4 linked regions of the Homo sapiens genome follow. The protein of the gene in region 4 purifies or fractionates together with the protein of the main gene of each other region. This does not show direct contact. Each region holds a gene or a part of one and is shown on either strand. Other genes may lie near its edges. The genes, in order: NUDCD1, COPG2, G3BP1 and COPA.

Evidence for each region.
Region 1: the proteins of COPA (region 4) and NUDCD1 purify together in Homo sapiens (co-immunoprecipitation; 3 studies listed by BioGRID and IntAct, with this or other methods). This does not show direct contact.
Region 2: the proteins of COPA (region 4) and COPG2 fractionate together in Homo sapiens (co-fractionation; 4 studies listed by BioGRID and IntAct, with this or other methods). This does not show direct contact.
Region 3: the proteins of COPA (region 4) and G3BP1 purify together in Homo sapiens (affinity purification with mass spectrometry; 2 studies listed by BioGRID and IntAct, with this or other methods). This does not show direct contact.

Annotation. Positions count from the first base shown.
Region 1 is NC_000008.11:109,331,088-109,338,470, reverse strand, and holds the start of NUDCD1 (nudC domain-containing protein 1), read left to right. Parts: upstream 1-4,383; 5' UTR 4,384-4,460; coding exon 4,461-4,578; intron 4,579-7,383. Other genes in the region: transcription and mRNA export factor ENY2, read right to left, coding at 2,267-2,343, 3,997-4,002.
Region 2 is NC_000007.14:130,560,740-130,567,773, reverse strand, and holds part of COPG2 (coatomer subunit gamma-2), read left to right. Parts: intron 1-3,380; coding exon 3,381-3,514; intron 3,515-4,437; coding exon 4,438-4,505; intron 4,506-6,552; coding exon 6,553-6,741; intron 6,742-7,034. UniProt on the Homo sapiens protein: The coatomer is a cytosolic protein complex that binds to dilysine motifs and reversibly associates with Golgi non-clathrin-coated vesicles, which further mediate biosynthetic protein transport from the ER, via the Golgi up to the trans Golgi network.
Region 3 is NC_000005.10:151,788,936-151,795,969, forward strand, and holds part of G3BP1 (ras GTPase-activating protein-binding protein 1), read left to right. Parts: intron 1-1,387; coding exon 1,388-1,469; intron 1,470-1,953; coding exon 1,954-2,127; intron 2,128-5,223; coding exon 5,224-5,314; intron 5,315-6,543; coding exon 6,544-6,640; intron 6,641-7,034. UniProt on the Homo sapiens protein: Protein involved in various processes, such as stress granule formation and innate immunity. Plays an essential role in stress granule formation.
Region 4 is NC_000001.11:160,291,243-160,298,276, reverse strand, and holds part of COPA (coatomer subunit alpha), read left to right. Parts: intron 1-531; coding exon 532-721; intron 722-838; coding exon 839-934; intron 935-2,127; coding exon 2,128-2,216; intron 2,217-2,417; coding exon 2,418-2,541; intron 2,542-3,419; coding exon 3,420-3,509; intron 3,510-3,683; coding exon 3,684-3,793; intron 3,794-4,813; coding exon 4,814-4,891; intron 4,892-5,042; coding exon 5,043-5,111; intron 5,112-5,450; exon of another isoform or gene 5,451-5,656; coding exon 5,657-5,793; exon of another isoform or gene 5,794-6,078; coding exon 6,079-6,265; exon of another isoform or gene 6,266-6,347; coding exon 6,348-6,458; exon of another isoform or gene 6,459-6,780; coding exon 6,781-6,942; exon of another isoform or gene 6,943-7,020; intron 7,021-7,034. UniProt on the Homo sapiens protein: The coatomer is a cytosolic protein complex that binds to dilysine motifs and reversibly associates with Golgi non-clathrin-coated vesicles, which further mediate biosynthetic protein transport from the ER, via the Golgi up to the trans Golgi network.

The sequences.
Region 1 (7,383 bases), on a different chromosome or scaffold from region 4:
AGGGCCAAAATCCAACTTTTGATTTTCTACCAATTCATCCTGTTTGTTCTTCTTCTGAGAATGGCAATTCCATTCTTCTGGTTCCTCAGACTAGGAATCTCTGTAGTATCCTTCCACTCAGCTGCCTTGTTAACACTACACATCCAATTTATGAGCAAATCCTATTGGGTTCAATTTAAAACATATACCTAGAATTCACCTTTCTCACTATCTCCGCCATTACTACTCTAGTTCAAGCCATCATCTCTTCTCTAGAATATTACCATAGCATTCTAGGTTGTCTCCCTGCTTCTTCCCTTGTACACTTAGTTCTTCTCCTGCTGCTCAAAAACCTCCAGTGCCTTCCCAATTTACTCAGAATAAAACTCCAAGACTTTATTACAGCCTACATGATCCTTCATGATCTGCCTTCTCCCCAGCTATGCCACTGACTTAATCTCCACTCTCCCTCACCCAATTTACTCAGTCTCCCTAGCATCCCTGTGCTCCTCAAAAATGAAAGGCAAGCTCCTATCTCAGGAACTTAAAGAGTCCCTGCTCACCCTCATATCCTTCTGATTTTTTTTTTTTTGAGACGGAGTTTCACTCTTATCACCCAGGCTGGAGTGAAGTGGCGCGATCTCAGCTCACCGCAACCTCCGCCTCCCGAGTTCAAGCGATTCACCTGCCTCAGCCTCCTGAGTAGCTGGGACTACAGCCCATCACCATGCATGGCTAATTTTTGTATTTTCAGTAGAGATGGGGTTTCACCATGTTAGCCAGGATAGTCTCAATCTCCTGACCTTGTGATCTGCCAGCCTCAGCCTCCCAAAGTGCTGGGATTACAGGCGTGAGCCACTATGCACGGCCTCCTTCTGATTTCTTCTTTGTTTTTTCTATCTAAAATATTACACCTCTTTATTTTCTGCTTTATTGTTCCTCTAGTGCTCATCACCATCTGACATTATTACACAGTTTTATCTGTCTCCTCCCATTAGAATGCAAGCTCTGTGAAAACAAAGTCTCCATTTTTGTCTACTACTGTTACCTCCAACACCTTAACAGGGCATGGCATATGATAGAAACTCAGTAACTTGAAGCTGCATGAATCAAAAACAAACAACAAAAAAAAAAAACAACATACAATCCGTACTCCTTACCAGCAGTACTATCCTCTAAAGCTACCCAAGGCAGTTATCGATGCCTCCTTCCTCATTTTGAGGGTTGCTGTTTCTACATTTTATTAAAATTCTAAGGTCTCCTTCCAATTTTTGGAGTTTTCCATTTTCAACCCTATATAATCTTCTACCTCATTTTTCTGCCATCTATCTTGTCCCCTTCAAGTCCAAGCTCCACACCAACAGAGTAAGATTCCTAAAGTGTAAATGTGATCTAGTCATTTCCTTTCTTAAAACTTTAAATGACTCCCATCATCCAAAAATAAAGTCAGCAACAGATGCACCTCTTTTTCTTATTGTGTGAGATCTTACATGATCACCTGAATGCCCGGGTTGAGTTGAAAGATTCCCCCTCTTCCTTATACATATTTGCCTCTTCCTTATACATATTTGTCTTACTCACTTTATAACCCTGCCTCTGGGAGCCTTTCTTGATTCCTCAGCCCCTTCTTTGTACTTCTAAACCTGTTGATTCTGCAAATATTTACGTGGCCAATTATGAACCAAACAAAGCATTAGATGCTGGGTATACAATGTTGTTTTTGGTGTTAAAGAACTTAGATTATACTGGAGGATACAAACTAGCCAAGTAGATTGTTAGAACACAATGTTGATTAAATGCTATGATGGAACAAGGTATTTGGGACTTAAAAACATTCCTTGAAGAGACAATATATAAATTAGACCTGATAGTTGAGCTAGAATTAGCTAAAAAGGAAGAGAAGGAAGAATGTTTTAGAGAGTGGAAACAGCACTTGCTGCTCCAAGGTTGAGAGCTTGGTAAATGAAGCTGGTTCCACAACATTGTCTCCCTGTTAAAACCCAGGTAACATTATGTCTCCAGTTGTAATTCAGGTATGTACTTTTTCTTCTCCATCAAATTACTCTTTAAGAGCCATATCTTGCTCATCTTTCTACATCACCACTTCCCTCCAAGTCCTGCAATACTTAACAAACCTAAATTATTTTTTCCAGATGTTCGGAATAGAAACTTTTATAATCTCAATTGTAATTCTTTCCAGTGACATGTTTCATTTCTTGTTTAGATTCTTACAAGCTAACTATTAAAGGCGGTGAAATGTAATTTATTAACACAATCTATTACTTACCGTTCTCTTTCTCCAGTTTCTATCAACTTTTGGTTAATCGCTGCTCTCATCTGCGCATCTTTGTTCATCTTGCTAACCTGGACATCAACATGTACTTTCAGATATAGAACATTTACAAAGCATTTTCTGCTAAATCCTCTAGGCAGGCATCCTAACATGTTTACCATTCTATTAACTGAAGGGGTGATACATTTCAAGTGTGTTAATAATATCATTACTCTTTATTAAACACTTATGTGCTTGGCACTGGGCTAATGCAGTGTGGGTTTGCTTTTTTTTAAACATCACATTTAATTCCCAGAACGTATTGTTACATATTTATATTAATAAAATAATCTGTATTTTACTGATGAGGAAACTGAGGCACAGAGATAGAAAGTGGAAAGGCAAAATTTGAACTCAAGTACTTTGACCCTAGGAGCTCCAAAACTGAACATAACTGCCGATCACTTCTGCAGAGACTGCATCCAAAAATTGGGAGAAGTCATACATACTAAACATCAAAAAAAGATTAAATACTATTAGTAAAAAAATAAAATTACCAGGCCGGGCACAGTGGGTCACACCTGTAATCCCAGCACTTTGGGAGGCCCAGGCAGGTGGATCACGAGGTCAGGAGTTCAAGACCAGCCTGACCAAGATGGTGAAACCCCGTCTCTACTAAAAATAGAAAAATAAGCTGGGCTTGGTGGCAGGTGTCTGTAATCCCAGCTACTCAGGAGGCTGAGGCAGGAGAATCGCTTGAACCCAGGAGACAGAGGTTGCAGTGAGCCGACATTGCGCTGCTGCACTCCAGCCTGGGTGACAGGGCAAGACTCTGTCTCAAAAAAAAAAAAAAAAATTAATTAATCAAAAAAAATAAAATTACTAGATAAGGCTCTAAGTGTTTTGCTTTACTCTTCACTAGGATGAACCCACAATTACAACTGCTAAACCTAAGTGTGTGGATGTGTGTGTTTACACACACACTGCTGGTGGGATAAGAAGAAAACAAATCTCAAACTAATTCCTAACTTACAAAGTCCTCAATTGTCAGTAAAAACAGACAACCCAAACCAAAATGATGTTGAAAGAAGAGGAAAGTTAGGTTTTGAAAGCGTTAAAGCCACTTAAAAGTTTAAATTAAATAAAACTTGGCGTAAACTAACGTTTTCCCACCTAATCTGTCACTAACTTGAGATTACTTTTGTTGTCTTCCATCTGGCCTATTGAAAATTCAGACTGGCAATGAGTTACCAGAGTTGATTTTTTTTTTCTTTTTTGAGAGGAACAGGGAAAAGGAGAAGTTGAGTGAGAACTAGGAAATGCTTGCTTTTGTAATTGGAGGCTAACATTTTCAAAATAACTACAAGGTCTAGTCAGTACCACTCCTGGAATATTGAACTTGATCTCGTCTTGGCTCCTAAAATACGGATAGTGACCTTGGACAAGTCACTTAATTCTTAAAGGCCTCAGTTTTCTCACTGGTAAAACAAGGGCGCTAGGGTATCCCTCCCAGTTCAGACATTCTTAGGGAAAATAGAACAGGGCGGAGACAGCGGGAGAGGCGGGAGAGGAGGAGCCAGAAAACAAAGCGAGGACTGGTTTCAGGCCAACTCCGGTAGCACGCCCTGTCGGAGAGCCCTACAGGCCCGCGAGCGCGGGTCGGGGACGCTAACGAAAGACAGTACATCGAAAGGAGCCTGGGCTGGGCCCGGGTCCCGGCCCTGAGGACCACGGGCATAGCTCACCACCATCACCGCGGGCGAGGGCCGTCCCTTCCCAGCGACGAAATGACCCTTGCGCTGAGGACCGTTACCTACCACACTCTTCGGCTGCCCGGACTTAGACCCTCAGTAGCTCGGGCACCTAAGCACACAGAAAGCTAGAACACGCATTTCCGGGGCGGGGTCTCGCCACCCTGCCTATAATGTGAGAATTTAACCAGCGCGGGCCGCCTCCTGGTTGCTAGGGCCTCTGGGTAACAGAGTTCAGACCTTGCCGTCGCGCGCGCGTTAAGTACCAGGAGAACTACATAGCCCAGCATGCAACAGTCTCAACTTTTTCACGGACACTACATTTCCCAGAAGGCAGTTCGCACCGCAGTGTTTTCTGGGATGGGAACCACGCCGCTTCCCAGTCTCTGTGCGAGGCGTGAAGCGCGGACCTTTCAACAAGGGCTTTATTAATTCTCACGCTGCGGCCCTGGAAAGCGATGGAGGTGGCGGCTAATTGCTCCCTACGGGTGAAGAGACCTCTGTTGGATCCCCGCTTCGAGGGTTACAAGCTCTCTCTTGAGCCGCTGCCTTGTTACCAGCTGGAGCTTGACGCAGGTGGGAAGCGGCGGCGCCCTTCGTACTCCGTTCCTTTCCCCTTTCGGCTGCCTCCGGCCTGACCCTTCCCGCAATTTCTTTCTTTCTGACTGGCAAGCGAAGCCACCGTGGCGGCTTGCGTGGACTCACGGAGGCCGCTGCTTCTGGGGAATGATGCCCATCCCAGAACCCGGTGGGAGCCGCCTTCGCGCGCTCTTCGGTAACGGGACCCTGGGCCCCCTCCGTCAGCAGCCCAGCCTCTGAGGTCTGAGGTCTGAGGGCTGGCGTGCGGGTAGTGCCTGGGGCTCTGGCTGCTGTGTGTCCACAGCCTGGCTTCTGTTTCGGGGGACGCTGAGAACATTCCTTCCTCCTGGAGCATCGCTTGTGAACGTGTGCGTTGAGAAACCACACCTCCTTGGAGGACCCCCAGTTCCTGTTTCCTCTGACCGAGAGCCGTTTCTTAGAAGAGAAACTACATTCCAGTCATAGCATTTTTAATTACTCAGTTCCTGGCACATTAAGAACTCTGGTAGAGAACATCTCTAGAAGATAGTGAGGAAAAGTGGATTTACTCCCACACTGCTACTCCTTGCTTTATCTGTAGCTGGTAGAATATCCTTACTCTTGTTTTTACAACTTAACGGCATTTTCGTTATGATAGAGCCCAGAGATCTGCATTTTAAAATTCACACCCCTGCTGATTCTGATGCATGTTTTCAGAGATCACACTTTGAGAAATAGTGATCTACAGTTAATTATAATAACAGACATTAAAGTATAAAATAAGTTTATGCTAATTGATTTATTAAATTCAGAAATATTTACCGAGTACCTGTTTTGTGTTACGTCCTGATAATATCAAAATGAACAAGACACCTTCCGTAACAAAAGAGGACTATTAGCTAGTTAGGAAGAAAATTGTAAACAGATAATTGTAAAACAATATGGGAAGGCAGTGATAGGGATATGTACAAAATACAATGGTAGTACTTGAATATCTTTCCTAAACTAGTCTGGGGATCTGGGAAGGCGTCTTGGAGGAGTTAATATCTAAGTTGAGCTTTGAAGGGTAGGTTAAGAGTTGACTAGGATGAGAGAGGATAAGCTTGATTTTTCTTTTTATTTTTTTCCTTTTCCTCTTTGCCACCGTGTTTCTTCCAGTCACCCCATGTCAGTAGATGGTATCACCATGTTTAGTTAGTGCATTAGAAAGTGAAGCCAAAATTCAGTGTCTCAAAACAAGAAGCAGTTATTATTGCTCACAAGTCTACGGGTCAGCTGAGTGGTTCTTCTAGTCCTAGTTGGGCTCATTGATGCATCCTTGTTCAGTAATGGATCTGCTGGGAAGCTCTGCTCATTTGGCTGGACTTCCTCATATGTTTGGAGGGTGGGGGTAGGGTCTCAGACTATAAGCTTGTTTAAGATTCTTTCACATGGTCTCCTCTTGACTTTTCTCCGTGTGGTCTCTTATCCTTTAGCCGACTAGACTAGCCCAGGTTGGTACCAAGAGACACTTGTGCCAGAGTCATTTGGGGTTTATTTCTTTTAGCCACTGTCTGCTTGGTAGCAAGTCCGGTCAGCTCCACATTTTGATATCTCTAGGCCTCCACCCTAATCCAAATCAGAGTTATCTCTTACCTGAACTCTAGTAGCCTCCTGACTAGCCTTCCTGCCTTCACTTTTGGGCTTCGTCATTGCATTCTCCATAAGACGTACTTATCGGCCTTTTAAATTCTATCTTGATTTGTTGTCTGTTTCCTCCACTAGACTATGAGTTCCTTGAAAACAGTGATGTTTTTCTTTTGTTCACTACCCTATATCTAGTGCTTGGCACATAGGATGTATTCAATAAAATGAGTATATGAAGAAGAGAAGAAATTGTTGAGGTCATTCCATTCATGGGAAAGCATGAGGAAAGGGAAATAATTAGTAGGTTGTATGCTGGACATCCTTGCACTCTTATATTGCTGGAGCAAAACGTCTGGGAAAGTGAGAGGAAATAAATCAGTGAGGGCCTTGTTTGCCTTTTGGATTTCTTGGATTTCCGGTCATTCAGTGTTTCCCTGACATTTTTGTATTGAGCCATTACAATATAAAATAAAACTCAGCTGCTGTAGTTCTGCCAACTTTTCTGTTTACTAGGTGGAGATGTTTCTTAAAAACTATCATTTACTCATCTATCTTTTCATAAACAAAAGGATATTTTAACACCAAAAAAGCAGGAAGCAAAATCTCACAATAAACAATCCATTGAATACTTTAACTTTAGAAAAAATTCACAAAGTTGTCCTTGTTCCGTACTCATTTCATCAGCGTTAATCTTAGATTCTGTGTTTGGGATGTACAGCTGCAGGATATCAGGTGCCATTTGAAGATTTTTTTTTTTTTTTTTTTTTTTGAGTCTGAGTCTTGCTCTATTGCGGAGGCTGGACTGTAGTAGTGTGATCTCGTCTCATTGCAACCTCTGCCTTCCGGGTTCAGGCGATTCTCCTGCCTCAGCCTCCCGAGTAGTTGGGATTACAGGCGCCCGCCACCATGCCCAGCTAATTTTTGTTTGTTTCTTTTTGTTTTTGTTTTGTTTTTTGAGACGGAGTCTCTGTCGTTGAGGCTGGAGTGCAGTGGCGCGATCTCAGCTCACTGCAACTTCCGCCTCCCGGGTTCAAGCAGTTCTCTGCCCCAGCCTCTGGAGTAGCTGGGATTACAAGTGCCCGCCACCAAGCCCAGCTAATTTTTGTATTAGAGACGGAGTTTTACTATCTTGGCCAAGCTGGTCTTGAACTCCTGACCTCGCGATCCACCTGCCTCGGCCTCCCAAAGTGCTGGGAT
Region 2 (7,034 bases), on a different chromosome or scaffold from region 4:
CGAATTCTCTCAGCATCTGTTTATCTGAAAAGAACTTTATCTTTCCTTCATTTATGAAGCTTAGTTTCACTGGATACAAAATTCTTGGCTGATAATTATTTTTTTTAAGGAGGCTATCGATAGGACCCCAGTCCCTTCTAGTTTGTAGGGTTTCTGCTGAGAAATCTGCTGTTAATCTGGTAGGTTTTCCTTTATAGCTTACCTGATGCTTGTGCCTCACAGCTCTTAAGATTCTTTCCTTCATCTTGACTTTAGATAATCTGATGACTAAATGCATAGGTGATGATCTTTTTGTGATGAATTTTCTGGCTGTTCTTTGAGCTTCTTGTATTTGGATGTCTAGGTCTCTTGCAAGGCCGGGGAAGTTTTCCTTGATTATTCCTTCAAATAAGTTTTCCAAACTTTTAGATTTATCTTCTTCCTTGGGAACACCAGTTATTCTTAGGTTTGGTCATTTAGCATAATCTCAAACTTCTTGGTACCACCCAGTTGGTAGTTTTTTTATCCTCATCCTCTCCCACCCTACACCCTCAAGTAGGCTCCAGTGCCTATTGTTCCCTTCTTTGTGACCATGTGCACTCAATGTTTAGCTTCCCTTATAAGTGAAAACATGCAGTATTTGGTTTTCTGTCCCTGTGTTAATTTGCTTAGGATAATGGCCTCCAGCTCTATCGATGTTGCTGCAATGGACATAATCTCATTCATTTTTATGGCTGCATAGTATTCCATGGTGTATATGTACTACGTTTTCTTCATCCAGTCCACTGTTGTTGGGTATCTAGGTTGATTCCATGTCTTTGCTATTGTGTGTAGTGGTGCAGTGAACATAGGAGGGCCTGTGTCTTTATGGTAGAACTGTTAGTCCAAACTGTACCATTTTGTAAGCCCCTTGTCATTTCATAGACCTTGATCAAAGTGAAACATTCCTTGGGGGACTGGGCCGTGAGAAACATCCTGCCCGACTGCCTGACTTTCTTATCACATTCTGCTGGGAAAAAGTCCAAGGAACATCACTGTCACATCCTGCCAGAACAAGGGCCAAACCACCTCATCATGGGAACATCTTATCAACATCCTCCCGGGCAGCAAGCCATAACCCTCAGACCCCTCCCTCCCAGGCCTAAAATTGCCCCAGCCTGTAAGCAGAGGTGGGCCCTGGCATTAAGCTGGTGCCCCGCCTCTGCAGGTCTTATGCTGGACATAAAACCTGCATTGCTGTAGAGCCGCCAACTCTCTCTCAGTCTTTCTTTAATCCTCGCCTTCTCATCAAAACCTAAGAAGAACAATTCATATTCCTTCGGGTTCGTATTTAGTAATGGGATTGCTGGATTGAATGGTAGTTCTGAGGTCTTTGAGAAATCTCCAAACTGCTTTCCACAGTGGCTGAACTAATTTGCATTCCCAACAGCAGTGTGTAAGCATTCCCTTTTCTCTGCAACCTCACCAGCATCTGTTACTTTTTGACTTTTTAATAATAGCTATTCTGACTGGTACAAGATGGTACCAAGCATATGAAAAAATGGTCAACATCACTAATCATTAGAGAAATGCAAATCGAAACCACAATGAGATACAATTTCACACCAGTCAGAATGACTATTTTTATGCTTTCAACAGTTTCACTCTGATGTGTATATATTTGAATATTTTTGTATTTATTCTGCTTGAGACTTTTTGAGCCTCTTGGGTACATAAATTAATGTTTTTTCTAAATCAAACTTATGAGGTTTTCAGCCATGGTTTCTTCTTATGTTCTTTTTCCCCTTTGTGTCTCTCTTTTCCTATGAAAACTCCTATCATCCAAAATGTTGGTACCCTTGGTCATGTTACACAGGTCTCCAAAGCACTGTTCATTTTTCTTCCTTCTTTTTTTATTTTCATCAGCTGGTTTATCTCAGTAGATCTACAAGTTTTCTTATTCTTTCATCTGCCTGTGCAAGTCTGCTATTGAACTTTTTCTGGTGAATTTTTCATTCCAGTCATTGCACTTTGCAAATCTAGAATTTCTATTTGGTTTCTTAAAAAAAAAAATCATTTCTGTCACTTTATTGGTAGTCTCATAAGACATCTTGTTGTACTTCCCTTTAAATTAAATATTTTAGTTTCCTTTAGTTCTTTGAACATATTTATATTAGCTGACTTAAAGTTTTTGCCAGTAAGTTCAACATCTGGGCTTCCTCAGGAATAAATTCTATTGACTACTTTTTTTCCCCCATAGATGGGTCATAGTTAAGTATTTCTTTGTGTGTCTCATAATTATTTTGTCAGAAACATTATATTTTAAATATTATAATGTGACAACACTGGTAATCAGACCTTCCCTTTCCCTATCCCTGGGGTTTGTTGTTTTTGTTGTTGTTTGTGACCTTCCTGGACTATTTCTGTAGTCTTTATTCTGTATCTTGTATAGACACTGAAGTCTTTGTTTGATTAGCTGAGTCACAAATAATAATTTGACAGATTTTCTTAAATGCTTTAAACCAGTATGTCTCCCATCATTTTCCAACGGGTGCTGTGTATGTTGGGGCGTGCTTTCCATGCCCCGGGAGTTCACAGCTCTGCCTTAGCCTTCACTTCCTGCTTTGTGCAGAGCCTCAGAGTCAAGCAAAGGTTAGAGAGCGGAGCTCTGTCAGGTCTTTAGTGGCTGTTTGCTTAGCCCTGCACATGCACATGACCTTCTGTATCCCCAGAAATATTTTAGAAATTTTCAAAGCCCCCTAAGGACATCTCATTTCTCAAATTTTCCTTTTAAGTTTTTTGGCCAGCCTCTTGTTTGCCCCTGCTAAAATTGCTGCTTCTGGCAGCTGCAAGATTAACCAAATACTACTGATTTTTTTGGACAAACTCCCTGGGCATAGGGCTTTTCATGCTGAATGAGCTCTTGAGTCAGGTGAAGTAAAGATTAGCCTGTGAATAGGGCTTTTCTAGGAGCACCAGACAGGTCACATAGTGACAGTTCTCTGGGGATGAGATTTTGGCCCAGAGCTGCTTTTGTAGCTAGGCTGCTGGCATTCACAGTTACTGTGGTTCTGAGGCTGCTGGTTTCCAAGACTGCTATGGAACTGGGAAGAGGTGCATGGAAATTGAGAATGAGTAGGTTAAAACACCAGAAACTTCACCATTTTTACTAAGATTCAGCTACTTTTCTTAAATAGATGTTCAGGATTGTTGCAAATCTTTGATTAATTTTTTAGAGTTCTGCAAAAGTTGATTTTGACAATTTTGCCAGTGTTCTAATTGCTTTGTGATGAAATGAATTTTTAGAAATCCCTCATCCACCATTCCAGAAGTGCCTCTCAATCTGCCTGTGCTTTTAATCCCTATGCATATTGCCTCTCTATTTGATATCTAAATAATGGCCTATAAATATTTATTGGCAGCCATGAAAGTCCACTGTTTGATTTCATTGAGAGCTGCTTGCGAAATAAACATGAAATGGTTATTTATGAAGCTGCTTCAGCTATCATCCATCTTCCTAACTGCACTGCAAGAGAGTTGGCACCTGCTGTTTCAGGTTTGTTTTATATTTGATGGCTGGCTTTTATGTTCCTAAGTTTTTGCTTTAAGTTTCATAGGTCTACAGAATAGGTATTAAGAATGTTTTCTGAACACTAGCTCTGTGTATATATAGCCTTTGCATTCTGATAGCTTATATGTAGATAGTTTATTTTAGTTGTTCCTTACTTTATTACTTTTTTTAATGTTTCTATTTCTCCATATAAAACTTTTGAAAGAATTTTATTTATATGTACATAGTTTATTAATAATAGTTCTTTATTGCTTTTTTTTAAAGTTTCTGTTTCCTCGTATGAAACTTTTGAAAACATTTTACAGTTTTCCTTGGTGTTTAAAAAGCCCATTTGTTTTCAGAACTGTCAATATTTCTACCATTTAGTTCAGGTATTAATGGGTATTCTAATTTTTTTTTAAAAAGAGCAAACTTTGTTTCTTATTTAAGTTTTTATAACTGACCAAAAGTGCTTTTTCTTTTTTTTTTTTCTTTTTTTTTTTTTTTTTTGAGACGGAGTCTCACTCTGTCACTGAGGCAGGAGTGCAGTGGCACGATAGCTCGGCTCACTGCAAGCTCTGCCTCCTGGGTTCACGCCATGCTTCTGCCTCAGCCTCCCGAGTAGCTGGGACTACAGGCGCCCCAAAAGTGCTTTTTCTATTTTGATGTTACATTTTTCATGTAAATTTTTGATGCTGTGATAAAATGTATGCATATTTTGAATGTGATTCATTATGTACTATATTTTCAGCTATATGGTATATGATGAGATAAGGAATATTCACAGCATATATAGGTAATAGTCACTGTATCTATATCTGTATTTTACTTCTTCAACTTTTCTATAGTTCTCTTAAGCCAGGAGTATTCACGGTATGTATATGTAATATTACTTAATGTTACATATTATTATTATTATTTTTTTTTAGTTCTTCAACTTTTCTGTAGTTCTCCTAAGCCAGCCTTGAGATATGCAGCTGTGAGGACCTTGAACAAGGTAGGTGTTTCTTTGCTAATTATTGACTTATATCAGTATTTAATTGAGAAACATTAAATGTGAAGCATTTGGTTTTCTCTCCAAGGTTAGTATATGTGATTTATGGGCTTCACCTCTACAACACTTCACTTGTATTTGTGGCCTTGAGTATGCTCATTTTTATTATTATTTAGCTGAAGATTATAACTCATTTCTGACTTCTAAGCATTTTATATTCAAGAGCCACACTGTCCAATATGGTGGCCATTAGCCACCAGTGGCTATTTCAATTTAAATTAATTAAAATAAAAAATTCAACCCTCAGTCACATGAGTCACACTTCTTGTACTCACAGCCACATGTGGTCAGTGGCTGTTGGACAGTGCAGATCTTGAACATTTCTGTCATTGAAGAAAGTTCTCTTGCACAGTGCTGGTCTACAGCAGCCCTGTCCAGTAGAAACCCACTGTGAATCACATATGTAATATTAAATTTCATAATAACCACATTAAAATTTTTAAGGTAAAATTAATTTTAATAGTATATTTTATCATAATACATATAATATGTCATCTCAACATGTAATAGATATTTTTACATATCTCAAGTTTTTGACATCCAGTATATTTACATTTACAGCATACTCAGTTTGGATTAGCCACCTTTCAAATGCCTGGTAGTCACATGTTGCTGTTGGCTATGTTATTAGACAGTATAGATTTAGAGGATATAATACAGAAACACAGAATAAATTAAATAAGCATAGAAAATGTAAATGAAAGTTAAATGTAATAGAAGACTTGTCATAGGCAATACATAATTATAAATTAATTGTGTAAACAGTCGAAGAAAAGAGAAGTTTAGAGCAGCCATGGAAGAAACCTTTATAGAACAACAATTTAAATGGTTTTTTATTTATTTATTTTTTTTGGAGACAGAGTCTCACTTTGTCTCCCAGGCTAGAGTGCAGTGGCACGATCTTGGCACACTGCAACCTCCGCCTCCCAGGTTCAAGCGATTCTCATGCCTCAGCCTCCCAAATAGCAGGGATCACAGGCACCTGCCACCACGTCCGGCTAATTTTTGTATTTTTAGTAGAGACAGGGTTTCGCCATGTTGGCCAGGCTGCTCTCAAACTCGTGACCTCAGGTGATCTGCCCACCTCGGCCTCCCAGAGTGCTGGGATTGCAGGTATGAGCCACCAAGCCTGGCCTAAATTGTTTTTAAAGAGTTGATACAGGTCTACAATCCCTCATCTCTAATCTTGGGGCCAGATGTGTCTCAGAATTTGCTTTTAGTTAAATTTTAGAAAGGTTATATGGTGTTATCTCTTATTTACTAACCCCAGTGGGCCTGGGGCAGCATCCCACCATTAAAAAACATTAATATTTTTGCACAAAACATATGACTATCCTTGTCAAGTGGTATAAATTAAGAATTAAAGAGTTTCGCATTAGTTTGGGTCATGTTTTGCTGTTAAATGGATTTTCATCCCAGTGCTCTGCTTTCCAGAGTGTTTTCAGATTTTCCAAATTGTGGGTAAGGGATTCCATACCAATATTGGGATAGACAAAGAGGTGGGACAACATCAACAAAAACAAGGATGCAGGAGAATGGCAGACCATGTAGTAACCATAGATAATGCAGTTTGGCTGGAGTTTGCGTCTTGAAATGCAGCAGTATTTTTTAACTGATAAGATATTAACAGTCTTTGTCGAGCACTGACTACTATGCTAGATCCTGTTGTCAGTACTCCTAACATCTAATAGAATAGACGTATATGAACACACGTACTATAAGGAAATACAGGCCAATTATAATTTTTTAAAAATGGTAATGTTAGAAAGGTTAGAGGAACCTAACAAAAGAGAGTACGATGCTATACTCTGGCCGTTGATCATTTATTAAAAGATATACCTTGTTAACTGGAGCCATTCTTTTTGTTTTTGAAGCAATTACTTTTAACTTATCCTGTCCTCTTTGGATTGCCACTTACCTCAATTAAAATTTAAGTTCTGGCCTTTATCAAAAGCAATTTGCTTAATTTTTTTTCTTGCCCTTCCACAAGGTGGCAATGAAGCACCCCTCTGCTGTTACTGCCTGCAATCTGGACTTAGAAAACTTAATCACAGACTCAAACAGAAGCATTGCTACCTTAGCCATTACTACACTCCTCAAAACAGGAAGTGAGAGCAGTGTGGACCGGCTCATGAAGCAGATATCTTCTTTTGTGTCTGAAATCTCAGATGAGTTCAAGGTAAGAGTTTAAACATGATCATATTTTCTCCCAGTCTGTTGGCTGCCTATTTATTTTCTTAACGGTATCATTTGAGAAGCAGAAGTTTTAAATTTTTATGAAGTCTAATTTATCAATTTTTTTCTTTCATAGTTATTACTGTTCCCTAAGAAACCTTTATCTACTTGTTTTCTCATGCTTTAGGCTAAATGCTTTATGGTTTTAGATTTTACATTTTAGGCAATGATCCAACTTGAATTACTGTTTGTTTGGTAAGTTCAGTATTTTTTCCATACCTATATCTACTGTATTCC
Region 3 (7,034 bases), on a different chromosome or scaffold from region 4:
CCTGGCTAATTTTGTGTTTTTGGTGGAGACGGTTTCCCTGTGTTGGTCAGGCTGGTCTCGAACTTCCGACTTCAGGTGATCCGCCCACCTTGGCCTCCCAAAGTGTTGGGATTACAGGCGTGAGCCACCGTGCCCAGCCTTTTTTTGTATTTTTATATTTGGTTAATTTCTTTCTACCCCATAGAATAAAACTGACATAAAACATAACAAAAAGAAAAAAGCATAGGCCAGGCATGGTGGCTTATGCCTGTAATTCTAGCACTTTGAGAGGCTGAGGTGGGCGGATCACTTGAGGTCAGGAGTTCAAGACCAGCCTGGCCAATATGGCAAAGCCTTCTCTCTATACTAAAAATACAAAAAAAGGCGGAGGTTGCAGTGAGCTAAGATTGCGCCATGGCACTCCAGCCTGAGCAACAGCACAAGACTCTGTCTTAAAAAAAAAAATGTATTTATCTGGAAGACAAATGTCAAATCTTAATAGTGGTTATCCCTGGATTAGAGCATTTTGGTGTGTTGCTTTCCTGGTAGAATATTGTTTTAATGAAAATGGATCAAAGGAGGACATAGATGGGTGAAAACCATGAGGAATTGACTTTGACATTCTTAATTGCATCAGCAGAAATAGTTAAAAAGTACTTCTAAAACCACTTGCATGAACTAGGTGTTTAAGGGGAACCGCTCACGCTTATTCTCAGATACATTAATAAAAGGACACTTGAAGTCTATGAAGAAGATAGCTGTTCCAGCCTTACCGCACATTTTCTTCCTGAGTGAAAATAGGAACTTATGTATTGGTGGCCATCTTGACATGAAACTACAAGATCCTTCCCAACAGTATCATCCTACACTGAAACCTGGAACCAAATCCATTCCCATTCAGCAAATGTTGATCAAGTGGCATGTAGGGGATACAGAGATGATTGCATACAAAGATGAAAAAGAAAACGTTTCTGCCAGGGCCAGGCGCGGTGACTCACACCTACAATTCCAGCACTTTGGGAGGCCAAGGCAGGTAGAATTGCTTGAGTTTGAGTTCGAGACCAGCCTGGGCAACATAGTTGACCTTATCTCTACTTAAATAAAAATAATCAGCCAGGCATGGTGGCATGTGACTGTAGTTCCAGCTACTTTGGGAAGCTGAGGTGCCATTGCACTCCAGCCTGGTCAGCAAGAGCAAAAAAAAAAAAAAAAAAAATGTGCACATCAAAGATCATAGCCCCGGCACATCGAAGCTGCAATGAGCTATGATTGCATCACTGCACTCCAGCCTGGGTGACAGAATGAGACCCCGTTGCAAAAAAAAAAAAAAAAGTTTGCCAGTATCAGACGTGAAAAATAAACTTAAGATACTTGAAGATGACAAGTAAATCATCTTCCCATTTTACAGATTTTATGGAAAGAACTCTTCTTATGTCCATGGGGGATTGGATTCAAATGGAAAGCCAGCAGATGCAGTCTACGGACAGAAAGTAAGCATTTCAAGCCTTATTTAGGCTGTTAAGCAGGTAGAAAATAACTCATAAAATTGAAGTGGATCATACTTAATAGATTTGCTGATAAAGATCCAGTTTCTCAACTTTTTAGTAAAAGTTGATGTGTTTTATTACTATTTGATTAATATATTTGTTGAAATACTTATGTGATGTCAGATTTGTTAATTTTGTATGATATATTCTAAAGCTTTTGTGTGTTGGAAGATAATTGGCTTTAGCATGGGGATCATCTTTTCTAAACTTTGAAAAGTGTGTTAATTCAGGACAGTTATTTAAAAAACTCAAGCGCGGTCACTGGGAATAGAGTATACAAAGAAACATCAAAATTCAGTCTGCATATCCTGTAATTTAAATATACACATTCTCTTTGTGTTGTGTTGGAAGGTTTTTTTTAGTTGGAGGTTATTTAAATTTTAAGGCATTCTCAGTTGATTATTATTATTATTATTATTTTTTTAAGGAAATCCACAGGAAAGTGATGTCACAAAACTTCACCAACTGCCACACCAAGATTCGCCATGTTGATGCTCATGCCACGCTAAATGATGGTGTGGTAGTCCAGGTGATGGGGCTTCTCTCTAACAACAACCAGGCTTTGAGGAGATTCATGCAAACGTTTGTCCTTGCTCCTGAGGTATGTGTAGGAATGATTATTTTGTAGTGATCCAATACATGAAAAAAGAAACAATGAACTGTTGTGCATATCTTTAAAAACACTTGAAATTTCAGACTTACAGAAAACTTGGAATAATAGTACACTAACTCCTATATACTCCTTACCTAGAGCAGCTGTCACCACTTGCCCACATGTGTATAATTCTTTCTCTAAAATAGTTTAGTGGGCATTTCCTAAGAATAATTCTCTTCCATTCTGTAGTACAGTTATCAAATTCAGGAAATGTTGATGCAATATAATCTATAATCCATTTTTAAAATTTGGAAATTATCTCAATAATGTCTTAACAGTAATTTTTTTTCCTTGTCCAACATGGAATCTATAATTACACATTGCATTTAGCTATCATGTCTCTAGTCTCTTCTAATCTGCACTTGTTCCTTAATCTTTTGTTTTTTTTTATTGCATTGACATTTTTGAAGAGCACACTTTTTTTGTAGGATGCTTTATGGGTGTCATTCAGTGCTTCACATTAGGCATATTATGTCATTTAGTTGTGATATGAATTTTGATTAGTTAGGTTTTGCCACTGTAAAGTTAAATATCTTTTCTCTCTCTCTCTTTTTTTTTGAGACGGAGTCTCACTGTATCGTCCAGGCTGGAGTGCAGTGGCTCCATCTCTGCCCACTGCAACCTCCGCCTCCTGGTTTCAGGCTGTCCTCCTGACTCAGCCTCCCGAGTAGCTGGGACTATAGGCGTGTGCTACCGTACTCGGCTGATTTTAGTATTTTTAGTAGTGATGGGGTTTCACCATATTCGTCAGGCTGGTCTCTAACTCCTGACCTCAAGTGATCTGCCTGCCTCAGCCTCCGAAAGTGGGATTACAGGTGTGAGCCACCATGCCCAGCCTTATTTTTTCTCTTTTTGATTTGTAAATGAAGGATGGGAGATTCTCTATCTTTTTATCTTTCTTGAACACTTATGGCAAAATATTTTCCAGGTTCATCTTGCACTGTTCCTGGCCCAGTCCCTATTCTTGAATCAGCTGTTCCTTCAAGGAGGCCTGGTTCTTTTTAGTTATACTTATGAAAGGACGACAAGTTTATGTTGAATGATTGCATTTGTGTTTTCTTCCGGATTGGTCTAGACTGAACAAGGTTAGGAATCCTGTCTGCTTAAGCATGTATATAGAAATGGCATAGTAAGAAATTGTTGATTAAATCATTGTTTTCTCTAGCATTAATCTTAAGTTTTCTTTTTAGGATAGCAAACCTGAAACGCCTAAAATCTTTTAACCTTTGAATATGAGATAACTTTTTGTCTGTGCAAAATTACATGAAGCCAATTATAGTCATAATTTTTAGAGGAAGGCTTAGATTAAAATGTAAAGATGTGGTAGACTTCTAAATATGCAAAGAATCACATGGAGTATGATTGTGAATTACAGGTTTAATTACAGTTTTTTTCTTTTAAAGGAAGTATCTAACTTCTTAGTATAATACACTATTATATAAACTGTCTCATTTAATACAGAGAGTATTGAGGTATATGTTGATATCTTTCTTTTTTGTTTTTTGAGAGAAGAGTCTCCCTGTGTTACCCAGGCTGGAGTGCAGTGGTAGGATCATGACTTACTGCAGCCTTGACTGCCTGGGCTGAAATGATAATCCCACCTGAGCCTCCTAAGTAGCTGGGACCACAAGTGCAGGCCACCATTCCTGGCTGATTTTTGTTTCTGCTTTTGTGGAGACTCACTCTACAAAAAACTCACTGTTGCCCAGGCTAGTCTCAAACTCCTGGGCTTAAGCAGTTCTCCTACCTCAGCTCTCCAAAGTGTTGGGATTTCAGGAGTGAGCCACTGTGCCTAGCTGGTACCTTTCTTTTTACAGAGGAGTAACAGCCTTAGAAACTGAATAACTCATAATATATAATTGGATCTGCACTCAGGTGTGTCTTATACCTACTGCGAGCAATCTTTTTCAGGCTGCACTACCCTTGAGTGTTTATATCAATATTTTTGGAGACAGACTTGGGGAATTTTAAATATCTGCTGAAGTTAGGAATATGATTGCCTTTTTTTTTGAGACAAGGTCTTACTCTGTCGCCCAGGCTGGAGTGCAGAGGTGCAGTCTGGGCTTACTGCACCCTCCACCTCCCGGGTTCAAGCAATCCTCCCGCCTCAGCCTCCCTAGCAGCTGGGACTACAGGTGTGGGCCATTATGCCTGTCTCATTTTTGTATTTTTAGTAGAGATGGGGTTTCACCATATTGGCCAGGCTGGTCTTGAACTCCTGACCTTAGGTGATCTGCCTGCCTCGGCCTCCCAAAGTGCTGGGATTGCAGGCATGAGCCACTGTGCCCATCCGGGATATGATTGCCTTATAATGTTTTGAGGTGTGGGCTGTGGCATTTACATGCTTAGGGCTTTGTCAGTTTTTGGATATTTATCTTGTGGTGAGGTAAAGTGTTCTGAGCAAACAAAATGTATGTGAGTGTAGTCTTTTTACCGGCTATTGTAGAGTGGGCATTTTCAGTCTTGGCACTGTTGACATTTTGGATTAACTAATTCTTTGTTGTGGGAGCCTGTCCTGTGCATTGTAGGAATTTAGCAGCATCCCTAACCTTATAAGTTGTCAGTAGCATTCCATGTAGTGAATACTGAAATGTCAGCAGGGCATGCTGGCTCATACCCATAATTCAGAACTTTGGGATGCTGAGGCGGGAGGACCACTTGAGCCCAGGAATTAAAGACCAATCCGGGCAATATAACAAGATCCCGTCTCTACTCAAAAAAAAAAAAAAAAAAAAGAAAAAAGAGAAATTAGCCTTGCATGGTGGCGCGCCCCTGTAGTTCTAGCTACTTAGGAGGCTGAGGCAGGAGGATTGCTTGAGCCTGGAATGTCAAGGCTGCAGTGAGCTGTGGTGGCTCACTGCATTCCCACCTGGCTGACAGCAAGACCCTGTCTCAGAACCCCACAACAACAAAAACTGAAATGTCTCCAGATATTGCCAGATGTCTCATGGAGGCAGACTTGTCCCAGTCACCAATGGTGTAGAGTGATTTGACTTTCTAAAAGTCTGTTGAATAAATTAAAACTTTCTGTTGGCATTGCAGGGGTCTGTTGCAAATAAATTCTATGTTCACAATGATATCTTCAGATACCAAGATGAGGTCTTTGGTGGGTTTGTCACTGAGCCTCAGGAGGGTAAGTAGTGAAATACTTTAAATTACTTGTCTAAATTTTTTTTAATGGCATCCGATTGCCCTTAAGAGACTATGGGTTTCTTTACTGTTTTCATTACACTCTGTTCTTCATTAATAACTAATTATGGTATATGAAGAGTCTGAGGTTTTACCCTACTTGAAGCTGCTAACAGGTTAGCTTATATCATGGATGTTAGTAGAAGACATAAGACTCTTAGGTCAGAAGGAGACAGGCTAACTCACAGCGACAGTAGTAGTATTTTTGCCACATTTACCAATAGGATGTCATGGAGAAGGCTAGGTGATACTTCTACTGCAGTGGGTTGTGTTAAAGGCATGGGACACTGAGTTTAGGGAACCCAGATCTATTACAACAGGCAGTAAACATGACTACTCTTTGTGCTGGAGGGAGATACTCTTTCAAAGCTGTTTGCTATATAAATGTTCTTGAAAGACAGTCTAGAAGAAAGGGTAGGCATGGAAGATGTGTAGACACAGAGACTTATGGAAAATTTTCTCCAAAATAGTAGAATTGAGTGTTGTTTATATGGCTGAGAGTATATTTATTTTGTAATACAGTTTTACAGATAAGCAATCATTTGCCTAGTAAAGTGGTAGAGCCTGCATTAGATAACTGCCTAATATAATTTGGCTAATGTCACGTAGCCAGTAAGGTGACAGAGCCTGCATTAGGCTCCATGCTCTTAAAAACCAAGACACTACAGTAGCCTTAAAGTCTATCCTTAAGGCTGGGCGCGGTGGCTCACGCCTGTAATTCCAGCACTTTGGGAGGCCCAGGCGGGCAGATCACGAGGTCAGGAGATCGAGGCCATCCTGGCTAACATGGTGAAACCCCATCTCTACTAAAAATACAAAAAATTAGCCAGGCGTGGTGGCAGGCGCCTTAGTCCTAGCTATTCGGGAGACTGAGGCAGGAGAATGGCGTGAACCCAGGAGGTGGGGCTTTCAATGAGCCGAGATCGCGCCACTGCACTCTCTAGCCTGGGCGAGAGAGCGAGACTCCGTCTCAAAAAACAAAAAACAAAAAAAAGTCTGTTCTTCAAAGCCTTAGTTCTGTCCTTAAAGTCAGTGCCATGATTTTACCAAATTGTCCTACTTTGTTTATTTATATATGTTTTTCTTCACTGTTGTTTTGTGAACATTGCGAAAGTTAATGTATATGTGAATTCAGTAAGTACAAATTACTTTAAATATCTTTTTCTCACTTAGAGTCTGAAGAAGAAGTAGAGGAACCTGAAGAAAGACAGCAAACACCTGAGGTGGTACCTGATGATTCTGGAACTTTCTATGATCAGGCAGTTGTCAGGTAAGAAGATTTTGTTCACATGTCCGGGGCTGCATAAGAACTTGCATTGTCTAGTCTTTCCCTTTGTTGGAGGGCATTTACATATTCTGAGAATTACCTCAAAATAATAATTTCTCAGAAGAATGGTTTTGTTTCTGGTAATTTTGACTAAACAAAAATATGTAACTTGTTTGTTAATAGTAAATTGTACTATGAAGGCAATCTACTATTGCTTAGTTTAAATAGTATCAGTTTCTTTTTGGTTTAGTTTTTTCTTGGTGTTAAGTGAAAACTTGCATATTGTTTATCAAGAGTTGAATGTATTGAGGTATTAAATGCTTTGAGGGAATATGAAGTGGACAGAGACCTATTTAATTAGAGATCGGGCATAAATTGATATAAATACCAATATGTG
Region 4 (7,034 bases):
AGGAGGAGGATAATGCGATGTAATTATTTCCATCTCTGTATCCAAAGGGGTCCTATGTGTTCACTGGATTTTCTTTTTTTTTTTTTCTTTTTTTTGAGGCGGAGTCTCGCTCTTGTTGCCCAGGCTGGAGTGCAATGGCATGATCTCGGCTCACTGCAACCTCCGCCTCCTGGGTCCAAGCGATTCTCCTGCCTCAGCTTCCCGAGTAGGTGGGACTACAGGCGTGCACCATGATTCCCAGCTAATTTTTTTTGTATTTTTAGTAGAGACAGGGTTTCACCATGTTGGCCAGGATGGTCTCGAGCTCTTGACCTCGGGATCCGCCTGCCTTGGCCTCCCAAAGTGCTGGGATTACAGATGTGAGCCACCGCACCCAGCCGATTTTCAATGGAATTAGACTAAAAGCTAGGAGTAATTGAAAGTATAGGAAGTTCTTCAGGAAATCTATATAGATGCAGATGCTTTGCAGAGTCCTTGGTTTTGAGTCACATTGTCCTTCAACCTGTTAACACGACCCTGGGGATTCTTTAGATTGCTCTGGAAGCAGCCAAAGCACTGGATGACAAGAACTGCTGGGAAAAGCTGGGAGAAGTGGCCCTGCTGCAGGGGAACCACCAGATTGTGGAAATGTGCTATCAGCGTACCAAAAACTTTGACAAACTTTCCTTCCTGTATCTTATCACTGGCAACTTAGAAAAACTTCGCAAGATGATGAAGATTGGTGAGGCCCTCAAACTAAGGATGGGAAGAGGGGTTCTTGGGGGAAGGAGGAAGGTGAATTAAGGAGAAAGAGAACTTAAGAGAAAAGACCTAACTTGGTGTCTCTTACTTGGTGCAGCTGAGATCAGAAAGGACATGAGTGGCCACTATCAGAATGCCCTATACCTGGGTGATGTGTCAGAGCGTGTGCGGATCCTGAAGAACTGTGGACAGAGTAAGTATCCGAGACTTGCCAGCTTTTTCAGGGTCTGAGGAAGTATTTTTCTGTTTTTGTTGAGTTAATCTGTGTATAGTGGTGAGGGATTTCTCTTTATTGTGCATTTTTTTAGGAGAGACAACATGCTCCTACTGTGCTTAGAAGATTTTCTTCAAAGCCAAAGGGAGGTGCAGCCAGAATATTCAGTCCAGCCAAACACCCTTAGGAGAATAGTTATTCATGGGGGAGATAGGAGGTTTTAAAAGGTCTTGAGTGGACGCCCTAGTAAATGCACTTGGTTGGATGCCATTAGAATTTTATTCTTTATTTTCAGTTTGGAGGTTTCACTCATTTATTCATGTATATAGTCAAGGGATATTTTTTGAGAACCCACTATATACCAAGCATTATATTAGCATTTAAGATACATTAGGAAACAAGCAAGGTGAAAGATGAGGTTTGGACCAAGGCGCTATTAGTGGAGGGGTGAGCAGTGGTCAGATTCAGGATATATTTTAAGGTAGAAACAACATGATTTATTGCGGTAACTAGATTTGAGATGTAACAGAGAGGAGTCAGGGATATCCAAGGTTCTCAGCACGGATGGATACGTCTCAAAGATAAGCAGCTATATTAGTTCTCTATTTCTGTGTAACAAATTATCCCCAAATTTAGTAGTTTAAAACCACAAACATTTATTATTTCACAATTTGTGGCATGGCTTAGCTAGGTGCCTCCGGCTTAGGATCTCTCATGAGGCTACAGTCAAAGTGTTGGCCAGAACTGCAGATATCTGAAGACTCACCGGGGAGAGAATCTACTTCTGCACTCACTCAATGGCCATTGGCAGCCCCCATGTCCTTGCTCCCTGTTGTCTAAGAAACATCACTTTCTTTTCGTGTTGACCTCTCCATAGGAGTTTGTAACGTGGTAGCTAGTTTCCCTTACAGCAAGTGAGCAAAAGAGGGCACCCCAAGATAGAAGCCACAATCTTTGTAACCAGATCTAGGAAGTAACATCCCATCACATCTGCCATGTTCCATCCATTAGAAGCTATTTAATAAATCCAGCCCACACTTAAGAGGTGGGTATTTTGCAACAACTTGAATACCAGGAGTCAGGGATTACTGGGGGGCCATTTCAGAGGTTGCTTACCACAGCAGCATGCATTTGGAAATGTACCTATACCACAAAGTCTGTTTTCTCTACAGAGTCCCTGGCCTATCTCACAGCTGCTACCCATGGCTTAGATGAAGAAGCTGAGAGCCTAAAGGAGACATTTGACCCAGAGAAGGAGACAGTGAGTCTTTATTTACATAATTGTCTCTTATTACAGGATTAACTCTAGGATCTTAGAACAATTTAAAATTATGAATGTCACTCTCCCACCTGGTTACCAGGAGAGGCAGAGAAACAAATGAGATCAAAGGAGGCTCCATAACTTTCCTTACGTGACTTCCAAGTGCTATTTGTTTTTAGCCTCTTTTCTTCTACTATTCAGATCCCAGACATTGACCCTAATGCCAAGCTGCTCCAGCCACCTGCACCTATCATGCCATTGGATACCAATTGGCCTTTATTGACTGTATCCAAAGGATTTTTTGAAGGCACCATTGCCAGCAAAGGTAAGTACCTATTTCTCCCATAGCACTTTTGTTGTTTGTTTTGTGAAGAACTGTCCTAGAGAATACCATTAGCATTTAGTTTAACTTGTCCTTTTTTTCTGCATGGAGCCTAATGGAATATTGAAATGCCAGTCATTTATGGTGCAGTCTTAAAAACTTAAGATAGCATTTTCAGGTCATTAAAGAAAATTTGGAAAATAGGGAGAAAAAAAGGGATCCCTCTACTACCATCAATAACTTCGGTTAATATTTTGGTGTATTTTCTTAGGTTTTACTATATATGTAGTCATGTTCTTTGTTCAGTATTTTATCATTCATGACATACAATCTTAAAGGTACTAATTCAACTACCTGTAATTCCGGTATGTGGGTATAGGCAGATGTGTGCTATCACCCTCCACCACTTCCACCCTTAACCTCCTCCTGTTTTCTGGGTCTCCTAGTTCATTTCCCGTGAGTAAGAGCCTAAACAGACTCTTGAGCATTTTGTGCCAAACCCCACTCTTTTCTCCACCTCCTCTATCTACCCTATGCCTGATGCCCTGTACACATTGTAGTGGTGGTAGCTTAGCAAAGCGCTCAGGAAGAAATTCAAGAGTTGGTAGCCAAAGGCTGGTAAGTACAAATTATTTAAGAGCCAGTTTTTGGTAGCAGGAAGGCCAGTTCCTTCCATCTGTCTTCTATTCCCTCCCTCTGTGAAAGCTACTGCAAGTTAGCATAACATATATACCACAAAAATAAATAATACACAAAAATAAATAGTAAGTAGGCAGAAGCTTGGCACCTGTTTTTGAAAGGATTTAACCTGCCTACAGAAAAGGCCGTATCTCAGACTTGCTGGACTATAACCAGTTCCGTTCTGTTCCTTCCCTCTGTAGGGAAGGGAGGAGCACTGGCTGCTGACATTGACATTGACACTGTTGGTACAGAGGGCTGGGGAGAGGATGCAGAGCTGCAGTTGGATGAAGGTAAAAGTGCTGTTTTAAGACTGTTCTGGGGTGATGGACACCTTGGATTGGGACTGGGTTGTGGGTAGCTCTGCAGACTTCCAGGCCATGAAACGAACTAGGATTGATTTTACTTCCTTTGGCTAAGATTATGCCACTGCCCAAATCTGTTTTGAGCTTGAATTTTCCTTACAGATGGGTTTGTGGAGGCTACAGAAGGTTTGGGGGATGATGCTCTTGGCAAGGGACAGGAAGAAGGAGGTGGCTGGGATGTAGAAGAAGATCTGGAGCTCCCTCCTGAGCTGGTATGTGGAATTTGTACCCTTAGAAGGTTCTCTCCGTATCTCCCTGTGGAAGCCAGAGGCCTTATTGTCCCCTACCACTATCCTCAGGTCTCCTATCCTATCCCCTACCACTATCCTAAGGTCAGCCCTTCTGGGAAGGGGACTAGACCCTCCTAGTCTGATGCTTATCTCCCATTTGAAAGAAGGAAGATGGCTGGGCACGGTGACTCATGCCTGTAATCCCAGCACTTTGGGAGGCTAAGGCAGGACAATTGCTTGAGCCCAGGAGTTCAAGACCAGCCTGGGCACCATAGCAAGACCCTGTCTCTATTTTAAAAAGTAAAAGAAGCAGGAAGAACGAGAGAGTCAAAGTTAGTGGCCTTGTCACTTCCATCTATCCTGATATGCTCCAAGAGGAGAGGATGTAGGACTTATCTCTAATCTGATGCTTAACTCCCATTTGAAAGAAAGAAGAATGAGGTAATCAGCGTTCTGCCAGCAGCAGCTTATGAGAAGGTAGCAAGCTGTTTCATCTGAATTGGAGTTTTTGATATGTCATTTTGTCACTGGTGAGGTGGCTCCTATTTTGGCAGCCTTCTCCCACAACTATCACCCCTCTTCCTCAGTGGGGGCAGGGAACAATGTAAATGGTTGTGTTCTAGATTCAACAGAACAAAGTGCTTGAATGGCTTAAAAAATTACTCAATTTGGCTGGGCACAGTGGCTCACGCCTGTAATGCTAGCACTTTGGGAGGCTGAGCCAGGCAGATCACTTGAACTCAGGAGTTGGAGACCAGCCTGGGCAACATGGCAAAACCCCATCTCTACAAAAAAATACAAAAATTAGCCAGGTGTGGTGACTCATGCCTGCAGTCCCAGCTACTCGGGAAGCTGAGGTTGGAGGATTGCTTGAGCATGGGAGGCAGAGGTTGCAGTGTGCCGAGATCATGCCTCTGTACTCCAGTCTAGGTGACAGAGTGTGACCCTGTCTCAAAAAAAAAAAAAAAATTACTCAATACTCAATTTTTGTTTTTCCCCTAGGATATATCCCCTGGGGCAGCTGGTGGGGCTGAAGATGGTTTCTTTGTGCCCCCAACCAAGGGAACAAGTCCAACTCAGGTAAGCGGGAAGAAACCTAGCACGGCAGGGATGAGTGGCTAATACTTGATTGGTATATAACAGGTGTTGGCTACTTTTCTACTATAGTTACAGAGGAGAATAGAGAAGGGACAAAGTTTCACTTGGCTTGGGTTTTTTTGTTTCTTGTTAGATCTGGTGTAATAACTCTCAGCTTCCAGTTGATCACATCCTGGCAGGCTCTTTCGAAACAGCCATGCGGGTAAGTAACCTTGGCTTTTCCTCTTGAGTGTGCCTAGCCCAGGGTCCCCGGGAGATGGTTGACTCATTTTAATCAAGGGAAATTATCCTACCCATAAGGGGAAAGGTGTATATTTTTCATGAAAACTCTTTATCTTTGTTAAGTACACTTGCCTTCCTGTTATCTGCCTTCCACTTGGCCTAGTAATCTCTTAGGGCATATCCTTCAGTCATCTTCCACCCATTTATAGCTTGCTTTCTGGCTCATATCAGTGAGATAAGTACCCCTTTCCAAGCAGAGGTCTGTTTTGAACACTAAGCCAGTATTGTTATAATAACAACAATAATGATAACACTGCAATAACTGCTAACGTTTATTTAATGTTCACTGTGTGCCAGGCACTATCCTAAATACTTTAATAGGTATCATTAAATGAGGTAGGTCTTACAATTAAGTGTATTTTACTGATGAGGAAACGTGAACAGAGAAATTAATTACCTTGCCCAAGGAAAAGTAGCTTTTTATGCAGCAGGGCCAAAATCCTTGTTTCTTTCCTTCTGTTCCAGCTCCTTCATGACCAAGTAGGGGTAATCCAGTTTGGCCCCTACAAGCAACTGTTCCTACAGACATACGCCCGAGGCCGCACAACCTATCAGGCTCTGCCCTGCCTACCCTCCATGTATGGCTATCCTAATCGCAACTGGTAAGGCCCTTTTCTCTTTGCTTTCATCTGTTCCAAGTTGTGGTCGATATTTCAGATGGTAGCCTCAGTGACATAGTCAGAATTCTCTCAGAGCTAGGGTTTCCCAGTAGAAAAAGATCTTTGGTTTGTTACTCTATGGGGTTGGTTTACACCTGCTGTCATCCTCTTCCCCAGCTACTTTAACAGGAGACAGGAGGGTAGCTATGAGGATGTTTGCCAGAAAAGGAAATTGGGTCCTAGTTGCCTACTGACTATCCTGTCTTCTTCCTACTTTTCCCTTTCCAGGAAGGATGCAGGGCTGAAGAATGGTGTACCAGCTGTGGGCCTGAAGCTTAATGACCTCATCCAACGGTTGCAGCTGTGCTACCAGCTCACCACAGTTGGCAAATTTGAGGAGGCTGTGGAAAAATTCCGTTCCATCCTTCTCAGTGTGCCACTTCTTGTTGTGGACAATAAACAAGAGATTGCAGAGGTAGGAGGGTCTAGCCGCTGTCCCAGTTCTGGGCACTTCCACATTCTTGTCTCTGTATCCTGACCTTCTGCCCCCTCTACAGGCCCAGCAGCTCATCACCATTTGCCGTGAGTACATTGTGGGTTTGTCCGTGGAGACAGAAAGGAAGAAGCTGCCCAAAGAGACTCTAGAACAGCAGAAGCGCATCTGTGAGGTAAGATCTATAGGACCCTGAGCACAACAGAGACGTCCTTCCCTTCACCCTTCACTAGGTTTGAATTCTTTAATTTCAAACCCAGATCTGAGTGGGGATGAAGAGAAATTTAGGCCCTTCATTTCTATGAGGGGAGGATACATTTCTTCATCCTACTTCCTCATCTCACCAGTCCTCCATACCTAGGAGGTAGAAGACCTCTCAGCTTTATAGCCCATCATCCTATTTTGTGTTGTGTTTTTTATGCATGTGTAGCAGCTTAGAAATGACTTCTACCAGGTGTAGCATCAACCTGGCATGTGTTCCTTTTTCTGTCCACCAGATGGCAGCCTATTTCACCCACTCAAACCTGCAGCCTGTGCACATGATCCTGGTGCTGCGTACAGCCCTCAATCTGTTCTTCAAGCTCAAGAACTTCAAGACAGCTGCCACCTTTGCTCGGCGCCTACTAGAACTCGGGCCCAAGCCTGAGGTGGCCCAACAGGTAGATGGAACTCCTTCAGTGACCATAGGGAAGCCAGATCAGCTCTTACATGGAGGGAGCAGACCAAGGTCCTTGCCTCTGAAACAAAGCAA